Linked DNA regions of Homo sapiens: all the other regions are linked to region 2. The links come from fine-mapping of genetic effects on gene expression. A gene starts in region 2. Each other region holds a variant in brackets. All regions are shown on one strand. Distances are from middle to middle.

What was found. PIP is the estimated chance that this variant, and not a neighbour inherited with it, causes the effect.
Region 1: its variant is fine-mapped to the expression of SLC25A37 in whole blood (INTERVAL, PIP above 0.99).
Region 3: its variant is fine-mapped to the expression of SLC25A37 in monocytes (Quach 2016, PIP 0.95).
Region 4: its variant is fine-mapped to the expression of SLC25A37 in whole blood (INTERVAL, PIP 0.95).

The regions. Positions count from the first base shown.
Region 1 is chr8:23,573,143-23,581,249 of GRCh38, reverse strand. It overlaps SLC25A37 (solute carrier family 25 member 37), which reads right to left. Exons shown (of 4, transcript NM_016612.4): 4 at 5,787-8,107. Among named protein-coding and RNA genes, the nearest start is that of SLC25A37, 48 kb to the right of the region's middle. The variant C/T (reference allele first, on the strand shown) is at 3,646.
Region 2 is chr8:23,525,442-23,533,548 of GRCh38, reverse strand. SLC25A37 (solute carrier family 25 member 37) reads right to left here and starts at 4,593. Exons shown (of 4, transcript NM_016612.4): 1 at 4,337-4,593. The coding sequence starts at 4,546. RefSeq lists enhancers at 3,490-3,559, 4,850-4,899 and silencers at 4,060-4,309, 4,360-4,719.
Region 3 is chr8:23,544,651-23,552,757 of GRCh38, reverse strand. All of the region lies in intron 1 of SLC25A37 (solute carrier family 25 member 37), which reads right to left. Among named protein-coding and RNA genes, the nearest start is that of SLC25A37, 20 kb to the right of the region's middle. RefSeq lists an enhancer at 1,913-2,414. The variant C/T (reference allele first, on the strand shown) is at 3,286.
Region 4 is chr8:23,586,212-23,594,318 of GRCh38, reverse strand. No RefSeq gene overlaps it. Among named protein-coding and RNA genes, the nearest start is that of SLC25A37, 61 kb to the right of the region's middle. The variant T/A (reference allele first, on the strand shown) is at 4,168.

The DNA.
Region 1 (8,107 bases), 48 kb before region 2:
GCCCATTAAAGTCTCATGAAGCCCAGAGCTACAGACAGAAGACATTATGAATATCCATAACTATTTACATTAAAATTTGCACATTGATATGGTTTGGGACTGGGCGGGGTGGCTCACACCTATAATCCCAGCACTTTGGGAGGCCGAGGCGGGCGGATCATTTGAGGTCAGGAGTTTGAGACCAGCCTGACCAACATGGTGAAACCCCATCTCTACTAAAAATACTAAAGTTAGCCAGGCGTGGTGGCACACACCTGTAGTCCCATCTACTTGGGAGGCTGAGGCAGGAGAATCACTTGAACCCAGGAGACGGAGGTTGCAGTGAGCTGAGATCATGCCACTGCACTCCCGCCTGGGCAACAGAGTTAGACTCCATCTCAAAAAAAAAAAAAAAAAAATATATATATATATATATATATATGGTTTGGATTTGTGTTCCCACCCAAATATCATGTTAAATTGTAATCCTCAATGTTGGAAGTGGGGCCTGGTGGTAGGTGACTGGATCATAGGGGCAGATTTCCCCTTTGGTGTTGTTCTCATGATAGTGAGCTATCACAAGATCTGGTTGATTAAAAGTGTGTAGTGCCTCCCACCTCGTTCTTTCTTCCACCTGCTCTGGCCATGTAAGACAAGCCTGCTTCCCCTTTACCTTTCGCCACGATTGTAGCTTTCCTGAGGCCTCCCTGGCTATGCTCCCTGTACAGCCTGTGGAACCGTGAGCCAATTAAACCTCCTTTCTTTATAAGTTACCAGTCTCAGGTATTTCTTTATAGCATCAGTGCAAGAATGAACTAATACACACATTATTTATTTCTAAACTTTATGCAGACACAATCAGGGAAAGATTGAGGATGTGCTGGTATATTTCACCAGCTGCTTGCATTAGGCTCAACGTAGAAATCTTGGGATATATATTTATCACCTGTCAATCCAAGCTAAAGGTGTCCATCAAGAGAATATTTTCACTGTTCAGCAGGCAGCAAGAACTCCTTCCACGAACTCACATACTGATGAGGACAAACACCCTTGGTACATATCTCCCTTTGTTCTTTTTAAACTCCCTCTTCCCTTAAAGGCAGCCACCCCAAGGGGCAGCATGACAATAATGAAGAAGCCAGATGTCCACAGTCCCTCTTTCTGCAGCTCTGGGCTTCATGAGGTTGCAGTCGGGTGCCCATTCAACACTGAGAGCACTTCACAACAATAGAAATACACCAGGACTCCAAGGCGACACCCAAGCTTCAACTGCTTCAGGTTGAAGACTAAAACATCACTGGTATGATTTTGATTTATACTTTTTGTCACAGACGAGTTTCTGCTGACAGTGGACAGGGGTTGGGCTGTCTGTCTCTGCTAAAGTGGCCCTTGTGTCCTCTTAGCAGTAGTGCTGGGTGCTCTGCCCAGAGTCTCACTTACTATGGAAAATGAAACATCAAAGCTACCATAGGTAAGTATGAGCATAAGGAAAGAAGAGCTTCTTAAAGAAGCTATGGCAACAGGAACCTGGAAGTCTGGAATTGTGTAATATCCATGGCTTCATAAAAGAGAGGTCACATGTTTACCAAAATAACATTACCTTTAGGAGGCAAGGCCAGAGAAATGGGGAAGCTCAGAAGTATCCTAAATTTGATAAATGTATTGGGAATAAAGATCTTATGGTATGTTGCTGGGGACCGTTAAAGAAATTTCTTTCCTACAAAAATACCAGGACAGCCAGGATTGTCTATAAACCATTTAATTTCTTGATAGATATCGTTTGTTTTCCAGCTTTTCACTTTCATGAACAAGCCTGGGATGTGCAGTTTTGAGTGTTTGTCTAATTATTGCCTTTAGGTAGCCTCTGAAATATTATGCTAGATACAGTAGGAATGGTGCTGGGTGCAGGGGGTCAGGGGAGGGGGAGGTGTGGAAGCAGCTGAACTTGGTGAAGGTGACATTTAAAAGGGAATCCAAAAAGGCAAGAGAGTAAGTGCAGGGAAAAACAAACCGGGAACAAAGAAGACAAGAGCAGGGAGAGACAATGTAGGTTTTTGTTTTTTTTTTTTTAATAGCTTTGGTTGCTTATATTTCACTCCTAAGCTTGTAGAACTGATTACTACCCCTCCTCTGTAAAAGCCTCACCTCTTGGTTACTTCATAACTCTCTGACCACTCCAGCCTCTCCTGGTTCCCATTTCTCTCTTCACTATTAAATGTAAGCCTTCCACGAGATTGTTTTTCTCCCTAGGGACTCTCCTCTGCCCATGGCTTTGGCCACCACATCCCTTGGCCTATATGCCAGGTCCTTTGTTCCAGTTCCAGCCTTTCTCCTGACCACCAATATTGCATTTCCTTCTGGGGGTCTCCACCTGGATGTCCCACAGGAGTTTCAAGCTTAACAGGACATCAGAAGTTTGTTACATACAACGAACAATAACTGTCACTCTTATGCAGAATGCGGGAAACAGTAGGCTGGAGGGCTATGGAGAAAACAGGAGTGAATAAACCACAGTCTCTGCCCTCACTGGGCACATAATTCTGGGCAGAAGGCAGCAAAAATGCAAAGTGAGGTCAGCCATGGCAGGTTGGAGGCCTGTCAAAGAGGCTGTAGATACTGACAAAGAGGAAAGAAAGATCACATAGACAGGCAAATTAGGAGGAGCTCCACAATGTGGTAGTAAATGCTATCTTCAAGGCAGCCTGAAAAGGGGACTTGAATGAGCAGAGAGGAGGTGGCAGGAAAGGAAGACATTCCAATGGGAACAAAGTTCTGCAAAGAGCACAGCACCACCCTGTTAAGAAGATTAAGACCTCAGGGTCTTACACAACCATCCTGCTGACCTATTCTGTTTCTCTCTAGTCATTTCCTTACACACGAAGCTAAACTGGGAACTGCCATATGCAGGAAAGCCTATTAAATTCAATCAACAATGAAGAGCCCTTGAAGGTCTTAAGCAACTGAGTAACACGGTAAGCCTCTGGCAGCAAGGGGGGATAGTCTCTTAAGAATGGAGGACAAGTTGAGATCCAAGAGATCTCCAGCAGGCCACTGGACATTGAAATCTGGAGTTCAGGAGAAGAATCGGGGTGCTACAGCCCCATATCTAAGAATCATCTTCCAGAGGAGGGCAGATCAGCACCAAGGGGGTGTGGAGAGACAGGATCCCCAGCGGCAGAACCTTTCCAAGCAGCCATACTTAGGTGGCCCGGAAAGGAGCTGAAGCTGGTGAAGGGCCAGAGAAGGTAGTCATAGAGGTGGGAGGCCAGCAGAAAGCAGGGAAATGGAAGTCAAGTAGGGGAGCTAAAGAGAGAGCCCTCAAGTGTTGTGCATGTTCAAGGAGAAAGACTAGGGAGGGACCCATGGACTTAGAGATGTGGAGTCTATGCCCAGGGAGGAGGAGGACTAAAGACAGACTCATGGACTTGGAGATCAGGCATCTATGCCAAGAAGGAGCAGGACTAAGGAGAAACCCATGGACTTGAGATGAGTTTTCCATGCCCAAAGAAGAGGAGGACTAAGGAGAGACCCATGGACTTGAGATGAGTTTTCCATGCCCAAAGAAGAGGAGGACTAAGGAGAGACCCATGGACTTAGAGATGAGGGATCTTCTCTGCCGCCATGTATTAGTCCTCACCGCCAGGTCTTCCTACTCCTCTCAGACAG[C/T]CCAGCCTGTTCTCAGCATGCCCTAGAGTCCTGCGCCCCCAGGCCTCTGTTGACTTCACCTCTACACTCTCATCGATCCAGTCCCACTCATTCTGTTTCAGTCTCCTTCACCTTTCTCTTAGTCATCCCTCTTCTGGACAATTTCACTGTGACATGGAACTGACCATCTCCTGGCCTCCTCCGTATTTCTTCTTCACTTGGTCCTGTACACTTTAGCCAGATGAGTTTCCCTAGAACCAAGCTCCAATCATGGTGTCCCCTGCTCAAATACTCTTCATAAGACTCCCCATTACCTACTGCTTAAAGGTCAAACTTCTTACAATGGCAGTCAAAGCTCTTATGTGCAGCTTACTTACCATGAGGGTGTCTCCTACAAAGCCCTTATGGATGCAAACCAAGCTCTTTTCTCCCAAATTGCTCTTATTTCTCTTAGGCTACTCACTGCATTCAGACTTAGACCAGAGGCAATGCTTTGTTCCCTTGCAAGCAATCATAACCCACCTCCACATCTGCCCAGTTGGCTGTGTCTTTCTCTTGTACAAGACTAGGCTCATTACTTCTTCTCTGAAATGTTTGTCACATTAAGTCCCCTCCTTGGGTAGGAGCAGAGGTCTCTCCTGGAAGAGGTAGCTGATAACTAGAAAACATGCAACTCAGTAAGGAGACCTTGCCCCTAGAGGAAAGGTATACCTTCCTTTCATGGCCTTTTTAGGGCTGGAATTTGAATGTGGTCGTGCTGGAGAGGGCTCTTGAGTGATAGAAAGATGCCTCCATGAGGAGGCAGGTGGCAAACTAAGAGGGGCACCACAGAAGGGCCCCCTAGGTTGACACTGGGTTCTACTTTTCATATTTTCCTCTCAGCAAATCTTCACTGAACACCTAGCACATACCAAGCACTATGCTATGTGCCAGCAGTGGTGTGCTGATGAACCAGCTATTGGAAAAGCAAAGGCCTTGATAAGTAGCGCTTGACGATTTCTGTGGTGTAAATATTCCCACTGTTGCTGATTTCAAGCTACCAACATGGTAATATGGAATGTGAAGCTGGGAAGGAATGTGCGCTGTACAACCTAGAGAGCTGGTGCAGGGCCAGCCCCAGCACACCACTGGCTGGGAATAAAGCAGCAAATAGGACAGACAAGGCCACTGTCTCATGAAGCTTGGTCTAATGGGCACAAAGCTACTGTTTTGCTTCCATGGCTGACTTTGCTACCATCTTGATGGGTCAAGATCTGATTGTCTTAAGGAGTTTGCATCTCCCCTTGTACTCTTCTACTAGGCTGTAAGGCCTTCGAGGACAGGGACCACATCATATACTTCATTCTGTCCCCAGCACCTGCATGAGGCTCTGCTCATGGGAGGCACAGCCAATTTGTTGGCTGACTGATTCCATGGTGGAGGGAGAGGGGGGATATCTGTTGAATGAATCCATATCTACTGGAAGCAGACCAGCTGTGCCGCCCACCCCAGAGGAGGGGAAGCAACCACAAGTTGGAGTAGCACAGCATTGGCCATAGGTAAATTACAAAACAGGGAGTTTATCCCAACGCTCCCCATCCGCTAACCACCACCCCTTTCCACCTCCAGGCACCCCTGCATTGGCCAGGTCTCAGGCCTGACCTCAATTCTGACCCTGACCATGGCAGGCCAAGGGCTTCAGTGGTCATACTGAAGGTGGGTGCTCAGACTTTCAAACTTGTGGGAAGCATCAGAGTCATCCCTGGCTTCTCAAAGGGGTCCAAACCTTCCCTCCTCCCACCTCCAAAAGAGGTCACGTTCTCTTGCTTAAGCTGAGGTGTAAGACAGAGAAAACAGGCATGAGCACAGCACGTTCCAAAGAACCACTTGTAGCCTGCCACACACAGCCAGGCTCTCACAATGAGAAAGAAAAGTGCCACCCTCGCCAGCATGGTGAGCCAAGCCAGTGGGAGGGCTCCCGCTCCTGCCCAGCAAGACAATGCAAACACCACCATCAATCTGCTTGCCCTGGGGAAATGGGGTTGCAGGGGCTGTTCCTATCAAAGCTGCAGACCTTGGTCCTTAGTGCTCAAGAGGAACAAGCATAGGCCCCGTGAAGGACGTCCCCTCTTGCCATCCACTCCCTTCTCATTTCAGGATTCCCACCACAGAGCCCACAACACTTCGAAGATCAGTACTTTATTTTCTCTAGCTCCAGTGTTTTGCAACTGTAGCAGCATATCAGAAACATCCCCACACAAAAACACACAATTCTCCCCTTCTTCAAAGAGCTGGCAACAATTGAGAGGCAGAAACAATAGTTACTACAGGCATTTGAGAAATTTAAGAAATAACACTTGCTCACCCTTGAAACATACATTGTTCGTCTTGCAGGTAGGAAGCAGCAGTACATTTGTCATTCAAAGACACAATCATCCTTAAATAAAGTTAAATAAAACCTTATTGGCATAACAATGTGTTGGAGATGCAGCTTTATGGGGACTTTGGAGGAAGGTGCTTGGAATAAGACATGAGCATTTTAAAAGAAAAAAAAATGAAGAAAGCAAACTACACATAGAATGTAACCCAGTAAATAGATTCAATGCAAAGTTAAGAAAACATAGTCATGGGGAGAAGATTTCACCCATTTGGAAAAAATCAGTTTATCGTTCTAAAATAAAGCTTTGATCTACAGGTAGTTGAACCTCAAATCATGGTTTGGACAGAAGAGCTACTCACACACACATCATGTAAAAGTACGAGTGCTGTACTCAGGTGGCACTAACTGGCTGCAGATGTCACTCCAAAGACACCAATGACTGAGTACGTGCAAAGGTTACACTGAATTGGTCACCAGGGTGGGATAGTGGGGTGGGGAGGCCTCTTCCTATTTTGCACTTTGCATTGTCAAAGTCACAATAAGAAACCGGACTGCAGTCTGCGTGGAGCAACAATACCAACTTTGGAGATAAAGGCCAGATGGGAAAGTTAATTTCTACAAAATTAACAAACACTTGTATCTGCTCAGTGCTTCACAACTTTCAAGGCTTTTCTCAACCTCCTGATGACCAGGCATGCAGGCTGGCCAAGTGGCTCCCCAAGCTGACTCATCCCTCATCACACAGGGAGGGGCCTGCAATCAGGGCCCACAGAGCTCCAGGGTCCGGTTTTTGCCTTTCCTTTTTGACAGAGTCACTCTGTCGCCCAGGCTGAAGTGCAGTGGCACAATCTCAGCTCACTGCAACCTCCACCTCCTGGGTTCAAGCAATTCTCCTGCCTCAGCCTCCCAAGTAACTGGGATTACAGGTGCCTGCCACCATGCCCAGCTAATTTTTTGTATTTTTAGTAGAGATGGGGTTTCATCATGTTGGCCAGGCTGGTCTCAAACTGCTGGCCTCAAGTGATCCGCCTGCCTCGGCCTCCCCAAAGTGCTGGGATTACAGGCATGAGCCACCACACGCCACCTTCACCTCTCCTTCTTGCATCCCTCTAACCAAAGGAGTGCTCCTAGAGAAATCAAGTTTATTTTCTAAACACCAGTGAAAGCAAAATCCAGTAGGAAATACCTTGCTTCAGCGTGGCATATCTTAAGTGGACCAAAAGGGGTGGTAGGATAATTTTTTTACAAATTTGCTTTAAATTCTACTTTGAAATTTAGAATTTGATTTTTTTCCCCTCCATTTGCAGAATTTAACACCATTTAACACGAACCCAAGGCAGGTTGAGAGCGGAGATGTAAACATTTTCAACAGTAGCGTGGACTTTACGGCTTTCTACATCCCCATGTGGGTTGAGGCTGCAACTGGTTTTGGGGAGTGGGGGGCAGAGCAGGGAGAAGGCGTTAACTGCCAGATGGGACAGGGCAGCAGCCAAGCCCCACAGCCCAGCTGCAAAGGGCTGTTCACGGGGCACACGTGGGAGGTACCCAGTTTGGCTCTTTCCCATCCCTGATCTGAAAAAGGAACTCCACTGACTGATAAAATTCTTCATCGCTATTAGGGCAAAATCTACTCCCCAAGGCACTGTGTGCATGGTCCCAAGATGGAAATTCTCCACGTGTTACTTCCTAGGCAGTAGCACCACTCAAAAGAATCCAGGCCTGCGCCTCCTCGGTAAGATGCACCACGCTGACCGTGATGGGTGGCGGCAGGTCAGGACCCGGCTCACTGAAATGCAAACATACATGAGCTTCCTGCTCATTTTTAAAGACAAGCTCCGGTGAGGGCTCCAAATCAGAGACAGTGCAGCTCGTCTCGTCGGTATTCCCTTGCACGGCAGCCTGGCAGAGCACCAAATGGCACAGCTAGGGAAAACGGGCTTGTATTTTCTCTGAGCGGCAATCTGACTCGGCACACACCATTTCAGAAAGCGAGGCTGCGAAGCCTGTGTTCTCGGGTGACGCAGAGCAGACAAGGATGCAGAATGGCTTCTGGAGAGGGGTCTTCCGACTCGGGCATGAGGGTCCAGGTCAGACCTCAGCCGCAGGGCCCTAGCAGATAGGCCT
Region 2 (8,107 bases):
TGATTCCCCAAGACTGGTCACTGCTGCAAGACAGGACAAAACTCATCTCTAATGAGATGGCCACATGCAGCTGAAACGTGCCCAAGTGGAAGCCAGGAAAAGGTTTGGGAAGCACATTCCTCCCTTCCAGGTGACACGCACATCCCCCACCCCAGGTGCACACCCCTGTATAGTTTAAGCAAAGCAGCTGATTAAATCCTCCCATTCAACCCCAAATACCTCTCCCTACTAAAAAGCTGAGGCCCCCTTTGCTGTTCACAGTACTCTTGGGCACGCGCCTCCAAACCACGCTCCAGCCTGCCCCTCCCCAATTTAGGGCAGAGAAAAGTGGATGAGGTTCTCACACTCCTCAGGGTAGGCCTGAGGGGTACAGGCCATGGCTGCCTGGGGGTTCATGAAACAAGGAACAGGACTGCAGCTCACAAATACCCCTTTTTTGATTCCTCGTTCCAAATTCGCCTTTTAAGAAAATCACCTCTCATCAAAGGAGAGAAAAGAAGGGAGCAGGGGGATGTGAGGGAGAGGAGACAAGAAGGGAGAGAGAAAAATCATTATAGTTTTGTCCCAGGAACTAGAGCAATTTGGGATTTCACGCCCTTCTGAAGCTGAATGGCATGGACCGAACTGCACTTTGTTTGGAAAGCAATGAAGTGGGTGGGAGGGGACTCTGGCAGCTGCCTGCACTGCCCCCCAGCACCCTTCCTACCAGTCTGCCTGCAGCCAGGAGAAAACTCAGAAGAGGAGAAGTCAGAAGTTGAGGTAATGCTCTGCTGAGCTGGGCAGGCTGGCTGTGCACACCATAAGGTCAGCCAGGAGGCTCCTAGAGGGAACGCTCCGTGGTGCACCAACCTGGGAAGGAGGGCTCATCCTAGGAGAGTCACAGGCAGGGTTTCCCCCAACAGCAAAGCAAAAGAAGGGTTGTGAAAGGGTCAGCGGAAGTCCCCCGGCTTCAAATCTTTCCTGTTTCCTTCTGCCCCTGCTTTCCCCAGGCGGGACTCGGCATGGTCTCCGAGTGGTGTGCCTAATCTGGTTGGAATTTCCTCCTCCACCCACCTGGCATGCTCCTCAAGTCTTGAGCTCTCCTGATCAGACCAGGGGTTCTTGTATCCACCCCAAGTGCCCCTTGCCACTCTGGAACACCAGAAAGAGGCTCATGGAAAACCTGCCACCAGACCCCGCCTAGACAGGAGTAAGTCATTGCCACCATTTGGTGAGAGCCCTGCAGAGACCCTATACTCCCTCCCTGGGTATCACTTTGCTGCTCACTGTCATCGCAGGGGCAGCCAAAGGTCCCAGTAGACTGGCCCTTTATGGATGAATGAGTGCTCACATCCCACCATGGGAGGACCAAGGGAAAGAAGAAGACACAGGAAGCAGCAGGAAAGTTGCCAAAGGTCTTCCAAATACCCATTTCATAATCTCAGTGTTGCCTGCTGGGGCTCCAGAGATATTTTCTCAGGTTCAGTGGTTTTCATATTTGTTTGACCACAACTCCCAGCCAGAAGTACATTGTACACGTCTGTAAAATGCACTCAGAGACACACACACAACCCAAACAGAATTTCAACATTTCTCCCACTGCATGCCAGGCACACCCGTATTTTTACACTCTCACTAATAACTTCTTTTATTTATTTATTTATTTTTAAATGCAGAGTCCACTAATGGGTCATGGCCCACCATGTAAAAAACACTAGTTATTAAAGTGACACTGGGGATGTGAGGTGTGACCTCACGAAGAAGCAAATTTAATATTATAATGGGAAGCATCCACCAGGCCGACTTTGCACTTAGAACTGCAAAATAAGTAGCATCAGGTTCAGGGTTGAAAGTGACCAGCACAGAGCTCCACAGTCCACATTACCTAGGATAGAAAAAAGCCAGCCGATTCAACATTCTTATTTGTCATTACAAGATCAAAGTTAAAAATGGCGCCTTTCAAAACTGGAGAAAGCTTTCTCTCTTTCAAGATCCGATTTACATAGATTTGTTTTCAGCTGTAATAATTCTTTTGATATTTCAAGTAACATAAAAGAGGACGATGGGTGTTGTGTGTTCAGAGAAACGAGGCATGGGTTAAAAATGTGGAGAGGGACTGAGCAGGTCCACTGTCCCCACTTTATAGTGACAAAACTAAGGCACAGAACAGTGCCCGAGGCATGAAGCAAGTGAGAGCAGGGCTTGAAGCCCAACCCGGGTTTCTTGACTCAGTTACTCCCGGTCTTCGCCATCATCCAAAATACTTAAGAGGAACACAGGTGTGGTCTCCCCCAAGCCTTTCCATGATGGAGGATGCACCCCTGACTCCTCATGCTTGGCAGACAACTGTGCTGATGTTGGCAGACCTTGGCACTCAGTGGCAGCCTCAAAACCAACCCTGCACACTTCAGCATGGAAGGGCCCCTAAGGGTCAGTTATAATCCCAGAACCTAGAAGACTTCACTGATTAGCTAACCCACGCCTTGTTTTACAGACTTGTCTAGGAAAACCAGACCGGCTCCTTCTACCATTCACACCATGTTAACCTGTCCACAGGTGAAAACTGCTATGGAAAGTAATACTAAGTATACAGGTGACATCTGAACCAAAACATATCAACATGTATGGGGCAGGGAGAAACTAAACACAGATCACACAATTTAAACGTGTGAGAAACGCCTCTTGAGAGTGTCAAAGGGTGCTCAGAAGGCACAACTAATTATTTCTAATCCTAAAAATAAGCTAAAATGATGCTCTAAAGTGAACTCACTGTGGGGTTCCCGAATAGAACATTCATCTCAAGACACCAGTAGGACTAGGGCCTGCTCAGATAACACCTCCCTGCTCCTAACTTTCCCCAGACTCTGCCCAGGGCAGTTGAGACAACAGCTTCAATCATGGAGAATTTTATTACATTTGAGGGATTCTTTCCCATACAAATGCCACCTGGTATCAGTCCAGTGTCTTTCCTGGAGATGAGAACCATTCCTCTAACTCCCCACTGGGACACTGGAGGGACATATGGGTGATGGCTCAGGCTTAGGTCCAGCAGCACCTTGGAAGCCCATGTCTTTCCTCACTGGACTTCTGCCTGTCCAGACACTGACTGCTGGCTCCAAGCGAGCTCCCCGGAGCCGGGAAAACCCTCTGAGTTATACTTTCTGGCCTTCATACCTGCTCATGCAGGACCAGCATCAGCAACAAGATAAAGCTGCTGGGGGTGCCTCTGTGGGACCTGCCTTGCAAAATAATTGCCACCTAGAGAGGCCTCCGAATCCTCCAAAGCACACTGCAGCTGCAGCCAGAGGATAGGAGGTGGTGTAGGAGCCTGGGCAAGGTAATCGGTTCGCCTCTCTGCGCCTCAGTTTCTTCATCTGTTAACCCCCAGGGCTGTTGCATGAATTAGGCGAGTTATGCCTATAAAAGTGCAACGTGTAACAGTCAATACTGGCATTACTTCCTGCACTACTCTATCCTGGCCCTGGGGTGTTCTGGGCAGGCTGACAGAGGGCAGGTCTCAGTCTACCAGGCAAAACGCACCTAGTAACGCTGCCTCTTTACAGAAATGCAGTTAAAACTACCGGGGCAAGTGACAGACAGGGTTTAAAGGAAACTGAGTGCCTCTCACACAATCCACAGCAAGGGCTGTAAGGCACAAGCCCACCCACCTCCCCGCAAGCAAAAGGAGAAGGCAAACGTCATTGCCTCCCGGCGGCTCGGCGACCCAAAGTCGGGGGAAGAAGTGCAGGAACCCTCAGAAAGGGGATCCCACGGGCCGCTGTCGAACCGGTAAAGAGCTGCCACTAGTCGAGAGAAGACTTGCCGGCCCCAAGTTCCCGAAATAACCCGGGGAGCAGCAGCCACACACCAAGTCCCGAGGGCGCGCGGCCGGGCCAGGGCCACACGTTTCTCAGCTCCAGCGTGGTGAGGGCTTCCCCTGCGGGGAGCTCCCTCGGAAACCGCGCACGTGTGGGCGGCCCCAGCCAGCCCGAACGGCCAGCGTGGTAAGACTGTGCAGAGCTTCAGCGATCGCGTCCCCCGGGAGCCCAGTCGCCGCCGAAGCCAGCGGTGCTCGCCACTCCGCCTCCCCCGCCTCAGCGCCGCCAGCAGCCGGGGCCGGGCACGCGGCTGGAGCAGCGGGCGGTGCGGGGCGAGGACCGGGCACCCTCGCGGGGTCGGCGGAAGGCGCGGCGCCCAGGCTGCGCGCAGCTGCTCCTGGGGCGACCCCGGCCAGCCGCGGTCCTGGGGAGAGCTCGGTTTCGGGACGCTGCCCCGAGGCTGCCGGCGCGCGGGATGCAAATGCGCGCGCGCGCTCCTTCTCCGCTCGTTGCGTCCCCGAAGTCTCCCCGCGCCTCACCTTCACCGAGTCCACCGGGTACATGACCGAGTGCTCCAGGATCCCGGCCATCGCTCCTGCTGTCATGTGGGTGGACACGGAGGCGCTAGTCGGCAGGTTCTCGTAGTCCTCCGACCCGGTGGCGTCCTTGCCGCCGCCGCCATCTCGGCTGTCCCCATCCATCCTCCGCGCCACCGCCTGGCTGCCCACGCTCCCGCTGCGCAGCTCCATCCGCCAGCTCGGCGGGGCGCAGGAGGCTGCAGGAGGTGGGCAGGGAGGGGGAGGGGCGCAAAACTTCACTTCTTAAAGTGGGAGCCACCTCCCCGGGGCCGCGGCGCCTGACGCCATGGCGGGCTGGGGTGGAGCGCAGCGGCCAGAGACACCAATCGCCGGGAACCAAGAGGCCGGCGGCCGCCGCGCCATTGGTGTGCGGGACAGTGGGGACCCGCCTCCCTGTGTGACGTCACCGTCCCGTGCACATTTCCAAGCAACCGGACGGGGGCGAGAGGAGACGTGGGGTGGCCCGGAAAGTTGTACTATCTTGAGGATGGGCTGGTCCGCGAGGGGCAGGGGAGGTCATTGGGGAGGGGCCGCAGTGGGGTATGCCCAGAGCTGGAGGCATGGGTGACAGTGTCTCGGGGAAAATCCGTCCCCGTGGCGGGTGGGTTTGCAAACAGAATCGCTCAGTGAGCTTTGGCATTCCTAAGGCCTGAATTCAAACCTCAGGGGCCCGTTCTAGACTGCTTTGTTGGAGAGACCCCCATTCATTCGAAATTGTTTCTCTCAACCTAAATACATAATGCAGAGCTAAATGTGTTCCTCTTGTTCTCACCGAGAGACCGAACCCACCCTGCCCTGGACCGAGCAAGGCTATAAGGAGTGACCAGGAGGGAGCCCCTCTGAGTAGGCACCTCCAGGAAATTTTCTTTGGGTTTGATAGGCCCATAAGGTCTGTAGAGGCCTGATCTCACAGTTAGGAGTGTGAACTGGCTGAGAGTAAAATCTTACAGCCTTGCCCCTGCCTGTCTTAAGACTGTGGTCACCTAGTTCTTAAAGTCGTCCTAAGCTGGCCTCTTCAATAAAGTGTAACCCAGGCTGTTTTAATATTGTTTTGCTCCAGTCTGGGGAAAAAGGGAGAAATCAGAAAGTAGGGGAGGGACCTGTCTGCCTCTGGAAGTGTCCGTCTAAATTGCGTGTTCCAGGGCTTAAGATGACTTGGGCTGATCAACTTGTAGGCACCAGGGCCTCCCTGCCTTATCTAGACAAGGCTTCTCGTCAGGAAAGCTGGATCCTGAGATATGAAAGGGTGGGGAAGACCCTGAAGAGGCTGAGCCTACTCTCTGCCCTCACCGTGATCAGCATCCCAAGCAGCTCTTAGGGATTTGAGATACAGTAATGTGAGCATGGGTAGAGGTCAATAGAGGCGTCAGGACCAAGAGCACTGTTTGCCTAGTTTTGGTAGCTGCAGATAGTAGCTGGCAAGCTGAGTGCTAAGGATGTGATAAGTAAAAACAGGCTCTGTGTTTTTACTTAGCCATCTCTGTAATGGCTAGAGAAAACTCTACTTTTGTCAAAGGTCGTTTTTAAGAAATACTGATCAGAAGCTGTTGATCCTTATTTTTAAGTGGATGCCCTTTAAGCATTAAGTCTGTAAGAACCCACTGCCCCACTTCTGGGAATGTAACAAAAACCCAAATACACAGGAAGCTCTTCTTCAAAGCATTCCTTAGAGCAGTAAATCATTGGAAACAACCTAAATGGTCAACCAGAAGGGAATGGCTAAGGAAATTATGATGTGTGCATAATATTAGTGAAATATTATGCAGCCTTTACAAGTGGAATTTACATTACACGACATGGACGATGATTATAATGTAATGTTAGGTGAAAAAAACAAAACGAAATTCTATAACCATTGCATTCACAAAGATGTAAATGTGCTCAGGAAAAGAATCGCATGGTTACTGTGCTAGTGATGGAGGCTTATAGGCAACTGCTTTGACTTTATTTTTCAGACTTTAAATAATACTTTTATTATTTCTGTAATTTAAAAATAAAAAACCATTCTTTTTAGGAAATATATACCATATTTACACATACATACACACATCTATATATAGAAGTATATATGTATAGAATATAGATATGTGCATATGTATAAGATATATAGATAGGATATAGAATATACACATATGTACATATATAAAATATGTTGATTTGTGTATATAAATATATATAGATATATGTGTATATATAAATGTATTTTTTTACTTAGCCTCTCAGCATTCATATCCATGTGTATATATAAAATATATATACATTTTATGTATAAATATGTACATTTTATATATATAAATTTTATATTTTATGTATGTTTTATATAAATTTTATGTTATATATATTTTATATAAATTTTATATTATATATTTTATATAGATTTTATATTTATATATATTTATATATTTTTTATATTTATATATATTTATATATATTTTATATTTTATATATATTTTATAATTTATATAAATTTTATTTTATATATATTTTATAATTTATATAAATTTTATATTTTATATATAAGATATATACACGTCTATATATTTTACACATATTTAATATATACCTATGTATATATGATATATACACCTATGTATACATATATACATCTATGTACATATATACACCTGTTATATATGTATGTATATTATATGTATACCTATATTATATATAATACATATGTATAAGATATATTTTATATATATATACACACACACACACACACACACCTCCTAATGGATGAGAAACCCCCTGAACTTTGCAATGGTGATACCAGTGGAAAGAAGTTGCCTTTTGATGGTTAAGAGAATTCTTAGCAAATGTGAATATGCCCATAATCTTCACAGACGTGATTTTTGTTTAATTTCATTAAATAAATGTTAGAAACAGTTGAAAATCTTTGGAATATTGATTATTTAACAGAATTCAATATTTTTTTCTCCCCACCTATGGTAGATATGGTGGTTTGGCACTTAGCATCTTGCACTCCTCCTTGGACTGCAGTGGCCAGAACATGTAAAGCCACATTTCTCAGACTTTCTTGCAGCCAAGGGTCTAGCCATGAATTATATTCTGGCAATAGATGAATTGGAAAGATCTGGAAAGTGAACATGAGCTGAAGCTCCCTTCCTGTTCTTTGGTGTTTTCTGCTGCCTAGCAAGGTCACAGACACTTGAGGCAGGAACAGTTGGGGCGGGCAGTGGGTTCCCCACTGCAACAGCATGGCAGTGTTTGGTCACCAGATTCATGGATGCTGAGAGGTATTTATGGAATGAGGGGGTGCAGCAGTGATAAGTGGCAGCCTCCCGATCCCCGCACCGTGACTTTGTAGGTGGCCTTCTGATTCCTTGCCTTTGAGGCCATGGCAGAGGTAGCCAGTCCCTTGGGAAGCCAGTTTGGCAGTGTGGATCTGTGCCTAAACCCCTCCCCACGGTTTTGTGCATAGCAGTGAAAGGGCATAGTAATGAAGGCGCCATCCCGGATGTCACAAGGCAGCAGCCGGTCCAGCTCCCAGACCTCTAGGGAAGGCATGCTGCGAGAGGGTGGCATCCCAGACAGCATAACCCAGTGCTTGGGCCACACTGCCATCAGGAAGGGAGCAGCTCTCTCTTTGAAAGGCAAGAACATGGCAACCAGGAGCAGAGGAGTGGCAGCTCATTTGGTCCTCTCCCATGGGGCAGGCCAGGAAGCTCAGAATGACTTGTTGCTTCTATCGGAGTCTTTCGTAAAGTTCCT
Region 3 (8,107 bases), 19 kb before region 2:
TGCTGAAAATCCCAATCACAGAATCTCAAAGAAACTGCGTTCAACCACCCACCCAATGCTCAAAGACCGTCTCTGCCCATAAGTAACGTACGTTCTGGTTGGGGAAACTAGGTGCCATGGGGAAGGGGTTGGGATAGGATGGGAAGGGCGTCAAACAGTCAATAAAGACCTCCCAGGTAAGACAGCGTTCCTTCTGGGCACGTGGCCTGGGGTAGCAGGAAAAGCCAGAGGGACCAGCTTTGAAGCTCATCCAGTCACTCAACCATTATATAGAGAGCTTCTACCCCACGCCAGCCACATGCCTGAGAGCACAAAGACAACCCCGGTTTCCACCTACCACAAGGTCGAAATCCTATTCTATTTTTCAGCTATATGAACTTGGATAAGTAACTTAACTTCCCTGAACTTCAGTTCCCTCGTCTGTAAAATCCCCTAACCATGCTTCCTGAGATGAACGAGAAATCCTTGTATTCACCTAGTGGAGTACAGTAGGTACTCAATAAATGTTTATCTTCACCGGAACTATTTTTAGAAAGGCTCCAGTATATTCCCTACCTGGTAGGGAGAAAACCACCACCTAGGTTAATCAAAATGGCTTAAATTATCATTAAGAACCACAGAACTAGCTTAATCTTGCTAGAAGGTGTGGGTGTTTTTCTCTACTTGCTGATAAATGGCCTGTATGGCCCAAAGAACAGTATTGCAGGTTTGAATTGAATCCCTCCCATCGGACTACAGAAGAAAATGGCTAAATCAAACAATAGATCCTGGAGTCCCAGGAGGAGGCTACCAGCCACAGGGCACTGGTGTTGGGAACTCCAGGTCACAGTCCCTGCAGCATCACAAGGAAGGGACAGAAATAAAACCCCATCCTGACCCTAGGTACCCCCCAACACACCTTTCAGTTTCTGATGGAATATATAGGCCCAGGACCTCAAAGCTGGAAGGACAGGCTTGGAGACCCCTCTGTATCTAAATCCTAGCTCTGTTGCTTCCTCCTCAATGTGTGTCCTTGGGCGACTCACTTCAGTTCTCTGCCCCCGTTTTCTTATCTGTAAGTGGGGCTCCTAATGGCACCTACTGCCTAAAGTCTCTGTGAGGATTCAAGGAAAAGCCCTTTGCATGGGGTCTGGTGGACAGCTGCCTGCTGCTTTTATTTCTGCTTTTTTTTTTTTCCTTTGGATAAACAGCAAAAAAGACGTCATTCTTAGCAATGACGTCATTTTTACCAATTCCTTCCTGACTCACTGCCTAGCAGCAGGATCTGCCCTGGTTGGGAGCACTCTCACCTGTACTCACTAGACACAACACTGGGATGTGGCAGGACCACCTGAGCAGCCCTTCCCTTCAGCTGCCCCAACTCACAGAAGGGAAACCAAGGCCCCAAAGAGCAAGGGGACTCGCACCTGGTGGCCCCCTAAGGGACTCTGACCCCTCCCCATTCACCTTTCTTCACTAACCATTTCTAAATGGATGGCCTAGGCTGCTTAAATTAATCCTGATTATGTAACAAAGAAAACTTAGATAGCTGGCAGAGAGGTGGGGCAGGGAAATCACTATTATCAGTTTACACTGGCACAGAGGCCCAGACAAAAGTGCTCTGGGAAGTTCACTCACCTGCTCAGAGCCAAGGGCAGCTCTGGGGACCTTTGACCAGTGCTGAAGTCCAGGCCAGGGCTAGGCAGGGACCTTGAGGGCCAAGATTCCCGACACTGCTGACTGGTCTGGTGTGGCCAAGTTCATACTATGGAAAAGGCCCTCCCTGCTGCTGAGAGCTGGCTCGCCTCTGAACTATAGGGAGACCAGCCCTGGGGGCAACAGCCAGAGGCCGCCCAAGTTCAGCTATAGGACTGGGCACCAAGAAGCCCATGCTCCACAGCAGCCCTGGAGGACCTGGGCTCCCGCCAGCCCGTGGGTGCGGGCATGCTCTCTGGTCCCTTGGAATCTGGGTACTACAGGGCACAGATATTTACACCAAGTGTGTCTCACTAGACCAAACAGCAGTGCTCCCCAAACTGTACACCTAGGTAAGATGGACACAGCCCTGTTCCAAGTTAGAAGACCTAAATTCTGTCCAGCTCTGCCACCCAATCCCTCAGCAACTGCACAATCATTTCACCTAGCTGCGCGTAAGCTGTCCACACTGGACAGGCCAGGGAGCCAGGCACCTCAGAAACCCATGCCGTCTCCCAAGCCAGGTGTGGTCCTCCCAGCTTCTACAAATGCAGTTCCCACGCCCTTGGCGGAGGCCACACCTTCTAAAGCACACCCCGCTATTAGCCTATTATCCACAGAAGAAGGGATTTTTAAAGCAGTCCCGTCGCCAGCCTCCTCTTGCTCATTCCTCCACGTATAATTATACCAAGTGATGCGTCTGCATGTGACTCCCATGAAAGGTCAGAGAAACGTGAAGGAGGGCGGCAGCACTGTGATCTCGGAGCCAGCGCCATGCCATGCTCACTAAAACACGTGCTCAATAAATGACTACCACGGATTCAGAGATGAACTCAATTCCACCCACAGGCAGGTAACAAAGCGGGTTTTTGTTTTTTTGTGTTTTTTTTTTTTTTTTTTTTGAAACGGAATTTCGCTCTTGTTGCCCAGGCTGGAGTGCAGTGGCTTGATCTCGGCTCACCACAACCTCCGCCTCCCGGGTTCAAGCGATTCTCCTGCCTCAGCCTCCCAAGTAGCTGGGATTACAGGCATGTGCCACCGCACCCAACTAATTTTGTATTTTTAGTAGAGACAGGGTTTCTCCATGTTGGTCAGGCTGGTCTCAAACTCCCGACCTCAGGGGATCTGCCCGCCTTGGCCTCCCAAAGCAGGTATTTTAAGTCCTCCTCAAATTCTGCCTGCTGTGGATCTGTCTCCCCTAGCGCAATGCACCTGGCCACAGTCTGGGGCCCACCCCACAGGTTAACAGCTGGGGATGTAAGCCCCATCAAAGCTGGGCTCTGGAATTTAGAGATGCCAGGGGGCAAATGAGGGGTCCAAATTTCCCAGATCCTACCAAAGCCAGATTTCCCACAAAGGCTTCTAACTTGATAGTGACTAACCACGTGGTGCCAAGTCACAGCTCTAAGCCACAGCTCGAAGGGATGTTCTTTCTCCACACACCTTTCACCTTTCACACTGATGACAATCACAGAGAAAGATGACAGGACACCAGATGCACCAGGCTTGCCGTTCTAAGGGTCTCAGGGAGAAACACCAGAGGAAACAACCGCAAGACTCGACTTTCAGCCTCCGGGACCCACTTGCTGAATTTATGCTAGACAATAGGTA[C/T]AAATTACTTCCGAAGCTTTTGGAGGAGTCAATTTAAGTTGTATTGGATGCAAAAGGTAATAGCAGGAACCTTCCATCATGAGTGAGATTTTTACGCTAAAACCCTCTCCCTGGAACCAAGAGCTCCGGCATACAATTTAAACCAAAGCCGTCTGGCCAGAAGGGTTTCCAAAAGTGAGAGGAGGAGGCAGGGACCAGAGATGAGTGACTCCCCAGACCACAGAAGTCTCAGCTGGTAAAACTACAGGATCGTTCTGCAAGAAAACGCTGCTACTACCTAAATGTCAGCGCAGTGTTAGGGGCTGCTGGAACTGAGGGAGCAGGTGTCGTCTTTGCCTTCAAGGAGTTTATAGTCTAGTAGAGGAGAGAGAGAGTACTAAAAATCCTATCGATAAAAAATTCCAAACTCTAAATGCCATGAAGCAAAAGTAGAAGGTGCAATGAGGGCAAATGCAGGGGGACCTCATTTAGATTTGGGGAGGGGTCCTGGCAGTGACCACTGAAGGTGAAGTTAGGGCAGAGGTAGTGACAGGTGGGATGTGGACAGAGGCTCCGAGAAGGCTGGTGTCACCTGAAGATGAGCCTGAAACGAAGTGTAGGACATACAGCCCATGCTGGGCCCTGAACACCAGACAGAGCAGAGAGAGAGTGTTTTACCCTTAATGCTGTGTTTCCATCTATATGGTCCTCATCTCTTGCCTTTGGCCAGGCGCAGTGACTCATGCCTGTAATCCCAGCACTTTAGGAGGCTGAGGTGAGCAGATCACCTGAGGTCGGGAATTTGAGACCAGCCTGACCAACATGGAGAAACCCAGTGTCTACTAAAACTATAAAATCAGCCGGGTGTGGTGGTGTATGCCTGTAATCCCAGCTACTTGGGAGGCTGAGGCAGTAGCATCGCTTGAACCCAGGAGGTGGAGGTTACAGTGAGCCGACATTGCGCCACTGCACTCCATCCTGGGGGGGCAACAAGTCTAAAAAAAAAAAAAAAAAAAGCCCGGACGTGGTGGCTCACGCCTGTAATCCCAGCACTTTGGGAGGCCAAGGCGGGTGGATCACAAGGTCAGGAGATTGAGACCATCCTGACCAACATGGTGAAATCCCATCTCTACTGAGAATACAAAAAATTAGCTGGGCGTGGTGGCACATGCCTGTAGTCCCAGCTACTCAGGAGGCTGAAGCAGGAGAATCGCTTGAACCCGGGAGGCAGAGGTTGCAGTGAACCGAGATCGCGCCACTGCAGTCCAGCCTGGTGACAGAGACAGACTCCATCTCAAAAAAAAGAAAGAAAGAAAGAGAGAAGAAATGAAGTGAATATAAGAGGAGACCGTTTCTCACTGCGAAATCTACAGGAAATGCAAAACACCATGGCAGGGAGATGCTGCAGGGAGGCTCCCCAGCTCCCCAACCCCATCATTCCCACGGATGCTCCTCTGGAATGATGGGCTAACCCCATCTGTGCTGCTGGCAGTGCGGGGTGACCTTGGCCATGCCGGCTGACCCCTGGATGACTCAGCTTCCTGGTAGTGAACTTGTGAAAGGTTCTGGCAGGAAGGAGTCAGAGAGCTGTAAACAGAGCCTTCCAGAAGCATCTGCCACACTTCTTCCCTTGATTCCAGGGCGGGGCTGTGGCCGTTCAGCATTTCTGTAATTGCCCGGATGGATGATTTGCAGTCTTGAAGTGTTGTCGTTGGAAGTTACAAGTATGTTAAATAAACTATCATTTATTTCTAGGCAGACACCTTGGAATGCAGGGGCCCAACATGGTACATGGGCCGCTGGTCCTTCCCACCACTGCTCAGCCCCTCTGCAAAATTCCACAGCAGGGTCTTCCTAGCTTCCGCTGCAAAGCAAAAGTGCTTGTGAGCCTGTATTTTACACCCAAAGTTGAAACAGGGAGTTAAAGTTACACTGCCCTGTGAAAAGAAGGAGTGGAAATTTTAGAACTGGTGAGTTCCCGAGAGAATCATGTAGTGTTAGTTCAATCTTGACATTTTATAGACAAAGAAACTTAAGATGTAGACAAGTGTTTTTCCCAGAGTTGCTTGATTGGTGGGCCCCTGGTCATCTCAAGCTAATTACAATTCACCCTAAAATGCAAATCCAAGACTTATATGTGTGTATCTACAGAAAGATCTGCTTTCGCCTTGCTTCTAGTCCTTTCCTTCCCTGCCCTCCAGTCAAGCAACACCATGAATGGTTGGTTCTGGATTGACAAATGTTCTCTGTGGCTCTCCCAGTCCCTCCCTTACACTCGAGCTACTCAGGTGAGATCCGAAATCTGTTTTCAATTTCAAATCACTCACTTCTGGTAGAAGCCCAGCTTTGCAGTAACTTGTGGGTTGTAGGGTCTGAAAGAGAATTTCAGAAACTTCCTTATGATTGATTTATCAGAAAAAATGCAAAAGATTCTTGGAAGAGACCTCAAGGGAATTTGAAAACAAGAGTTCTTATCCAAGGCCAGGCAAAGCGTCACCAACCAGCCTGCTCCCAACTCCCAGAAGCCTGTGGGGGGAGCAGTGCTAATTCCAAGGATAAACGGAACCTGCCACCACCTAACATTGTACTAATACGCACTGCACCCCAACCCCCATAATAGCAAATTACAGTTCTAACTCCTTCTCTACTTCCTTCCAAAATTTGAAAAAAAAATTTAAAAACAAATAAGTAGCTAAGAGTCATTCCAACTTGTAGATGAATTTTTTTCTTGTGATTTTATCACCTGCACAATTAAAAGTCATTTCTGAGCTGATATTTTTGAAGCTCTAAGGGCTAAATACAAATCTACCTTAATTTTCTAAGTAAGGCAATTTAACACTTCACCCTTCCTGGCCCAAATATATATATATATACACACACACACACACACATACACTATATATATATACACTATATATATATATATATATATATATACACTATATATATATATATATATATACACCTATATATATATATACCTATATATATATATACACACACACCTTAAAATTCAGTTATTGCCTGAGAAGCCAAGGTTCAAGAAAAAAAAATTTTTAAGCACAATTTCATTAACAGAGAGATCTCCAGTCTTACTTATGTACACTTGAGGTTTCTAACTCCTTTCACAGATAACCCTTCTCCCCACACAGGTCATTTTCTGTTCTTTTATTTATTCATTTTAATATTTTTAGAGACAGGATCTTGCTCTGTCACCCAGGCTAGAGTGCAGTAGCATGATCACGGCTCACTGCAACCTCAAACTCCTGGGCTCAAGCAATCTTCCCACCTCAGCCTCCTGAGTAGCTGGGACTACAGGTGTGCACCACCACACAAAACCAATTTTTTTTTTTTTCTTGAGACAGAGTCTTGCTCTTGTTGCCCGGCCTGGAGTGCAATGGCATGATCTCAGCTCAATGCAACCTCTGCCTCCCGGGTTCAAGTGATTCTCCCGCCTCAGCCTCTCAAGTAGCTGAGATTATAGGCATCTGCTACCACACCCAGCTAATTTTTGTATTTTTAGTTGAGACGGGGTTTCACCATGTTGGCCAGGCTGGTCTCAAACTTCTGACCTCGTGATCCACCCGTCTTGGCCTCACAAAGTGCTGGAATTACAGGCATGAGCCACCGCGCCCGGCCTATTTTTTTATTTTTATTTTTAGAGTTAGGGTCTTGCTCCGTTGCCAAGGCTGGTCTCGAACTGCTGTCCGCCAGCAATCCCCCTGCCTCAGCCTCCTGAGTAGCTGGGATTACAGGTGTGAGCCAGAACACTCATCTACATTTCCACAGGGCATTTTCTATGCTTCTATCCTGACCATTTCTTCTGAGTGACAGCTTGGCATTGTCTAACCACCCTGAAAAAGGCCCACACACGTGCTCCTTCAAAGCACCCAGCAAAGAGATTTTGTAACAAAGACCCCCTGTGCCAGGGAATCAGTGGACACACAAATAGAGAGGACAGCAGGTCTGTGCCCGTCACCGCACTGGCCTGTTGGAGAAACAGGACTCGGTTTCCAAAGCTGTGAGATCCAAGAGCTTCTGTCTACACCCTGGACTATCATGGACTCCAGTGGGAAAGTCCCCAAGCTCTCATCTCAGGCCCTTTACCAAGCCCAGCTGACTGTGCCCCTGGCATTTGATAGCAGGCCATCTCTGAGAGAGGAAGGCTACAAGGAAAGAGAGAGGACAGGAAAGTGTCCAGCTCTCCAGTTACCTTTCAAAAGAGACAAGAAGTGACACACGAATCTGAGCCTCCAGAGCAGGCCCTGGTACTACAAGATCCCAGGTCCATCTCTGACCTTTGGAAGGCACAGTTGTCGCCTACACCATCCTCAAGTCTCTCTTTGCCCTACAAGTTGTGACCTGGACCAGGAAAGCTCACTCAGGCAAACCCTAAACCTGCACACGTCACATGAGCATGTTTTATTTTTAGCAACTTACCTGGCCACTGCTCCACCAGCCCCTACTGCCACCTATTATGAGCCAACGATGAGCAGAAATGCCTCTGATGTGACCGCTTAGCCTCCCTTCCTCCTGTTTCCACCCTCCTCGGGTCCTTAGTTCGACAGTGAAAGTTCCCACCTGGGAGGAGGCTGGGCTTCTCTGAAAGCCACCAGGCAGTCAAACAGGGAATTAAGATTTCAGAACAGAGAGGAGAAGAGCTGCCACCTGATGACCCCAAACCACAGACACTTTCTCAGCTCAGAGCAGAACCCCAGATTAGAGTGTCAGTGGCATGCAGGCACCCTGGGGATGGCCAGGCACCTTGGAAATAGGCTGTGATGTTCTCAGGGACACAGAGAATCATACAGTTTAGTTGTAACATCCACATCTCCTTCAGGTC
Region 4 (8,107 bases), 61 kb before region 2:
ACCATCAGTCAGTTTCACTTGTATTAGTCATTCCATATTCACAACCACTTTTTGAGCTTGAAAATTAGTATCCTCATGTTCCAAACAGGGAAAATAACCACAAAGGTTCTCAGCAACTTGCCCAATGTCCCTTCTCTAGAAAGTGGGCTTTTGAACCCAGGTCTCATGGCTCTGAATTGCACCATCTTCAGCTTAGTCATGACTCCTGCAGGCACAGCAGAAAGTCATGGCTATCTTTCCTGGCATTTAAAGTTAGATAAATATTGGCCAACTTCAATGATTATTTAATGTTCTGCCATTCTTAGATTTGTTTGTATCATTTAGGAGATACTCATTCTTTTTACATCTGTATCTTATTGCCCAAAATGGCCCTTATTCAAGCTGTAAAAGGTACTCCCATGTAAGTGCTGTTTATTTTGCTTTTTTTTTAACTACTTTCTGTGTTCCTTCTTAGCCTTGCCTATCATGAGCAATCTCTCCTCTTTATACCTAGATCGCATGCCGTCTGTAGAATTCACTTGGCACTTGGAACCCAATGTCTCCTTTTCATTCCTGCTGATCTGATCTCTCTCAAACAGCACTCTGGGATCCTCCAAGCAAAGACTGAATCTTATGCTTCTTGCTGTCTCCCTTAGCAGTGTGGTCTAATAGTAAATGGGTCCTGGTTTCCAGATCCCTCTGATGCTAGCCAGTTATGTGATCTTGGGCAAGTCACCAAACATCTCAGTCTCTTTATTCATGAAATGGAAACAATAGTTGTCCTGCTTACCTCACAGGATTATTACAGAGATGAGACAGCAAGTCAATGTCTAGGTAAGTGCTTTGCAATCTAGAAATATTATGCAATTACAGAGATGAGACAGCAAGTCAATGTCTAGGTAAGTGCTTTGCAATCTAGAAATATTATGCAATTATACAGGGTTATTAGCCAAAAGTATTGCTGAGTGATATGGGGAGGAGTAGGTCGCTAGGGTCTCCTGCCAAACAAAGGAGTTTATAAACTGTGACAGGGACCACTACTGCACTAGGCTTCCCAAGATCACAGCAGGTACATGAACCAATGGATTGGATTTGATGCGAGAGTTGATTTGGCAGTCAGCCTTCTAGGAGAGCAAGGAAAAATTACCAGGCAGTGACACTCTTGTGAGCCAGCAGATCTCCTGGTCCCTTCAAAAACTCAATCCCTGAGTGGTACCATTGGATCACCAGACACCTAGAATATACCGAGAGCTATTGCCAACACTCAAGCACTTACCTTAACAAAACATCAAAGGGGCAAGCACAGATGCTGGTACGTGGAAAAGGCACTTTGCCAAATCTTTTCTTAAAGCCCCAAATTGTCAAGGTGAAGAAGCTGTGAGAGTTGAATGGGCTAAAGCACAATGAATAGTTCTGGAGGAAGCTGAGGCTGGGGAGAGACTGAGAGGGAAGGAGGCTCCAAGCCCAGGATGAGGGGCAAGAAGGGAAAAATCAGATGCTTCAACTAGTAAATCTGGGCTTAACAATTCACTGGGGAAATGCTTGCTATGGAAAAGGAATAGTACATTCCTTTTCCACATACTAAGCTATTCCACAGTATAGCTCAAAATGGAAGCAAAGCCACCACCTGTAATAAATTGCAAGCAAAGAAAGACACCTGGGCTGTCAAGATCTAACATCACCAAGGCTAGCCCACCACTCCCAGTCTAAAACCTATCTCCCTGTCCCCTAGTCTAATACCTACTATGGCCAGCAAGCCTCTTCATTCTCTCAGCTCTTTCCAAAGCCCCTAGCTTTTGTTCACAACAGTCCATCCATCTTTCCTAGAATGGCCCCCCCTTGGTATATCCCACTCAAAGCCAGTATGGCTGCACTTGACAACTGGGCAAGTCTCTCCTCCTGCACAAAGCCTACTCCATCCACCCCAGTACCTTGGAATGCCCCACTCCACTGAGATCATAGAAGACTTGGTGCATGCATCTCTTGTAGAGCAAGCTTTTCTAGAAACACAAGTGAGCAAATATGCATGTGTTTCTAGTTTGAGTTCCCCAAATATCAGAGCCTGAGTCAAGGACATGGGTCAAGGACTTTAGTGCAGGCTGTTTATTTGGAAGACGATGCCAGAAAGCAGAAGAGTATACGACGTGAGACAGGGAAGAAGGAACCAACCAAGGATGCATTATTAATGGTCTACATCGTGAGCAACTGGGCCTCAACCACATTGGAATCCTCTGAGGAACCACATAGAATGTGCCTGGGAATTGTCCTAACTGAAGACAGGTGGCTGGACCATATGGCCATGGTCTTGCCTTCATTGTTAGGGTTGCCTTTGGAGGCTTTATCTTGCCCCTTTTCTTGTGCTTTCAGGTCACAACTCACACAATGGTGTATGTCACCTCTTTGGTGTGACACACCTCCTTGGGCTTCAGAGAAAGCCCTGAGGCTGCGAATCCATGGGAATCAGTTTGATGCACCACAAGTCACCCCAAGATCTGCTGCAGTGAGCACACACATGCTTCCTCTTGGCAACAAGATCATAAGCTCCTGGAATGCAAAGATCATAAAAGGAGAAAGAAAACCAGGCAGATGGCTTCAACTGTAGACTGACATCATTTTGGCTAAAACCTTGAGATAGTTTGCTCTTGGTTGTTTTCAATTGATGACATTTTATCAGTCCCTTTCCCCTATGTTCTCACTGAGGAATAAAACCATAGCATTATATGGCAAAACCATAGCATTATATGGCAAAATCATATAAGGAAATAATACAGGAAAAGCTGTGCCTTCATTCATAGTAGCAGCAACTGTGTCTATCACCATCTTTAATTCAGAAGAAAAGTGAGAGAAATCACACCTTTTTCCATTAGATCCTTTGCTGGCCCCCATCTTGCCAGTCCTTCAAGAAGCAAGGTCAGACCCAAATGACCAGACTGACTCTGGGGAAGTCAAGTCATTTAACCTGTCTGAGCCTCAACGTCCCGATGTGTAAAGCAGGGACGGTAACTGTGCTGACACCACAGGGATAATGTGAGCATCACATACGGTAATGTTTGAAAAGACTTTGCAAACTGTAAACCGACATTCAAATGTCAGCTATTATTACAGCAGATTTGGGTCCCAGATACTTGCCCTGCAGCAATCCCTGCTGTGCCAGCTGGACAGGATCTTGCTTCCTTCTCTGAAAAATCCAGCTCAAGTTTTACACCACCTAAGGACACATGTCCCATGCTGCCCAGGTTATTATTTATGTAGGTGCTTTGTGTGTTTTTCAGGGTCCCCCACTGACCACAGGGCTTTGTGCTTCACTTTTTTTTTTTTCAGCTGAATTTTAGACTCACACTTTTTAAAAAATCCATAAGAATTGTTCTCAACTTCCTCTGGGGAAACTACAGGCACCTCAGCATGACCTCAGGGCCCTGCCCAGGTGGAGACCTGGCTATCCCAGTGCAGGCCAGACCACTCTCCTCCTCTTACACTCTGGCCCCTCACACTGCTCCTGCGCCTCCTGCACCCTGTCTCTCCACGTGGCAACGCCTCCTCCTTGACTTCCTCCGTCCAACTCACACTCATCATTTTCAAGTTAGTTTCACCCCATTCTTCCATGCAATGCTTCTTAGGCCTCTTCATACACTCATTCCGTAGGTTTTTGTTTGTTTGTTTTTAATTTTTGTTTTAGAGACAGGGTCTCGCTCTGTCACTCAGGCTGGAATGCAGTGGCACAATCATAGCTCACTGTAGCCTCAACCTCCTGGGCTCAGGCAATCCTCTCACCTCAGCCTCCTGAGTAGCTAGGACTACAGGCATGCGTCACCATGCCTGGCTGATTATATTTTTTATTTTTGTAGAGACAGGGTCTCACTATATTGTCCAGGCTGGTCTCAAACTTCTGGCTTCAAGCCACCCTCCTGCCTCAGTCTTCCAAAGTGCTGGGATTACAGATATAAGCCACTGTGCCTGGCCAACATATATATATATATATATATATATATATATATATATATATATATATATATATATATATATATATATTTAGTATCTAGTATGTGCCAGTGCTGTGCCAGTGCTGTTCAAGTGCTGTGCAATGGTGAACCTATCTCTCTTAATGCCTTTTCTCACAGATCTAGAGACCTTACTCGTACTACTGGTCTGAGACTTAGACAACGTGCCTGTGAGTTTTTCCTTTACGGC[T/A]ATTTTATGCATGCACTTTGCGTCTACCCCACCTAAAAGCTAGGTCTTTGAAGAGGGCTTCTTTGCACCTTCCTACTTGCAAGCAAAACAACATGCAGCATAGGATAAGCATATGTTAAAAAAGTGCATGACCCCACTCTCAGCCATAGAAATACATGGGAAAAGCTATGATAAGTTTTCTACACAATGATCAATTAAAAACATTAAAAACGTAGGAGGATGCCTTAACACAAACATGACTCAACTAAATACAGGAAGGTTTAGTTCTAGGCCCCTAGACAAACACAAGTTAATGTAATTTCCTTTACAAATGCTGCCATGGGGACAAAAATCTGTTACAATAAGAGTCCAGAAGTTGAGACAGATGGAAGTTTCCAGCTTGAGAAGTGAGAGATGAAGGGGTGTGGCTCCCGTATTAATGAAAATCAGATGCCACCTTGTGGCCAGAAATCAAAATTCAGGGATTTTGCTGGGGAAAAGAATTGAGTGCTGTTGAGAATCAAATAGAAAACTGCATTCCACAAGGAACACAGATTATCCTAGTGAAGACACTGTATACTCACATTTACCCTCAAAAGACTTCTTTGCTGTAATCTATGACCTCCTTATAGCCATAATCCTTAAGTCAAACACGTACTACACTCAAAAGCTTCCAAAAGCCCTGCTCTAATCGATAGGACCAGCTGTCACCTCAGCTAAAATGCAGTGTTGATTTATCCCAACAAACTCTCAGGGAAATATTGATCTCTGAAAGAATAAAGATGACATCACAGATATTTTTCAGGGAAATTGGGTGAAACACAATTTTCTTTCAAGAGCAAATAAACTCTCAGAGACAAGGGAATGAATATTTTACAAAAAGTTGGCTATATGAAATCATTTTTAACCAATATTTTATAGGCATATATAAGTGACCAATTTTGACAGGACTGGGAAGTTTAGGATTTCTCACAAACTAAGAGCTACTGAATAGTAAAGATCAAAATAAACATAATCATGCCTTATTGCAGATTCCTAAACTTTTTTAAAACTACAGACCAATACTCTCATGAACATAGATGCAAAAATCCTCAACAAAATATTAACAAATCAAATCCAACAACATGAAAAGAATATACACCATTAACAAGTGGGATTTATCCCAGATGTGCAAGGCTGGCTCAACATTTACAAATCAGTTAATGTAATCCAGCACATTAAAGGCTAAAGAAGAAAAATCACATAATCATATCAACAGATACAGAAACAGCATTTAACAAAATTATATGCATTCATGATCAACATTCTAAATAAACTAGTAATAGAGGAAAGCTTCCTCAACTTGATAAAGAAAATCAACAAAAAACCTACAGCTAATATCATATTTAATGATGAGGAACTAGAAGCTTTCTAAATAAAATCAGGAATAAGGCAAGGCTGTCCCCTCCCACCACTTCTTTTCAACATTGTGTTGGCCGGAAGTCCTAGTGAATGCAATAAGACAAGAAAAGAATAGAAAACTAAAAGCTATACTGATTGGGAAGGAAGAAATAAAACTGTCTCTGTTCACAGATCACATAATTGTTGATGTAGAAAATCTAAAAAAATCAACAAAAAAACACCCTGGAATAAATAAGTTATTAAAGCAAGGTTGCAGGACATAAGGTTTATATACAAAAGTCAAACATATTCCTATATAGCAGCAACAAACAAATAACATGTGAAATTAAAAACACAAAACCATTACATTAGCACCTGCCAAAATAAAATACTTAGGTATAAATCGAACAAAACACATACAAAATCTAAATGAGAACTACAAAACTCTGATGAAAGAAATTTAAAAAGAACTATATAAATGAAGAGATATTTCAAGTCCTTGGATAGGAATGTTTTATACTGTCAAGATGTTAGTTCTCCCCAGATTGATCTATAAATTCAATGCAATTCCAATTAAAGTCTCAGCAAGTTATTTTGTGGATGTCAACAAACTGATTCTAAAGTTTACGTGGAGAGAATAAAGATCCAGAATAACCAACTCAATATTGAAATATTGAAGGAGAAGGGCTGAGCTCAGTGGCTCACGCCTGTAATCCTAGCACTTAGGGAGGCCAAGGCAGGCAGATCACGAGGTCAGGAGTTCAAGACCATCCTGGCCAACATGGTGAAACCCTGTCTGTACTAAAAATACAAAAATTAGCCGGGCATGGTGGTGCGTGCCAGTAGTTCCAGCTACTCGGGAGGCTGAGGCAGGAGAAACGCTTGAACCTGGGAGGTGGAGGTTGCAGTGAGCCAAGATTGCACCACTGCACTCCAGCTTGGGCAACAGAGTGACACTTTGTCTCAAAAAAAGTAAATTAAATTAAATTTAAAAATAAAACAAAACATTGAAGGAAAAGAACAAAGTCAGAGGACTGTCATGATGCAAATTCTAGTGTTATTAATAAGCTACAGTCATCAAGACAGTAAAATCACTCTTTCACCAAGTGGTATTGGTGAAAGAATAAACAAATAGATCAATGGAACAGAATAGAGCCCAGAAACAGATCCACATAACTACAGGCAGACCTTGTCTTACTGCACTTCACTTTACTGTGCTTTGCAGAGGTTGTGTTTTTTATAATTGAAGGTTTGCGGCAACCTTGCATGCAGCAAGTCTCTCAGTGTCATTTTCCCAACAGTATGTGCTCCCATTATGTCTCTGTGTCACATTTTGGTAATTCTCACAATATTTCCAACTTTTTCATTATTATCATAGCTGTTATGGCAAGCTGTGTTCAGCGATCTTTGATACTACTATTGTAATTACTGACCTATGTCCATATAAGATGGCAAACCTAATTGACAAATATTACATGTGTTCTGACTGCTTCACTGACCGGCTGTTCCCCAATCTCGTCTCCCTCTCCTCAGGCCTCCCTATTCCCTGAGACATAACAATATTGAAATTAGACCAGTTAATAACCCTACAAAAGCCTATAAGTGTTGAAGTGAAAAGAAGAGTTGCGCATCTCCCACTTGAAGTCAAAACATAGAAATGATTAAGCTTAGTGAGAAAGGAACGTCAAACGCCAAGGTAAGCCCAAATATATGCCTCTTGTGTCCAACAGTTAGCCAAGATGTGAATGCAAAGGAAAAGTTCTTGAAGGAAATTTAAAGTGCTGTTCAAGTGAACACACAAATGATAAGAAAGCAAACAGCCTTATTGCTGATATGAAGAAAGTTTTAGTGGTCTGGATAGATCAAACCAGCAACACCATTCCCATAAATCAAAGCTTAATTCAGAGCAAGGCTGTAAGTATCTTCCACTCTATGAAGTCTTAAAATTGTGAGGAAGCTGCAGAAGAAAAGCTTAAAGCTAGCAGACGTTGGTTCCTGGGTTTAGAGAAGAAGCCATCTTCATAACATAAAAGGGCAAGATAAAGCAACCAGTGCTGTTGTAGAAGCTGCAGCAAGCTATCCAGAAGATCTAGCTAAGATAATTGATGAAGGTTGCTACACTAAACAGCAGATTTTCAATGTAGATGAAACAGCCTTCTTTTGGAAGATGCCATCTAGGACTTTTAAAGCTATAGAGGAGAGTCAATGCCTGCCTTCAAAGCCTTCAAAAGACAGCCTGACTTTCTTGTTAGGAGCTAACGCAGCTGGTGTCTTTAAGTTGAAGTCAATGCTCATTTATGATTTCAAAAATTCTAGGGTCCGTAAGAATTATGCTAAATCTACTCTGCCTGTGCTCTATAAATGGGACAACAAAGCCTGGATGATAGCACATCTGTTTATAGCATGGTTTACTGAAGGTATTAAGCCCACTGTTGAGATCTACTGCTCAGGAAAAAAAGATTTATTTCAAACTATTACTACTCATTGACAATGCGCCTAGTCACCCAAAAGCTCTGATGGAGGTGTACAAGGATATTAATATTTTACGCCTGCTAATACAACATCCATTCTGCAGCCCATG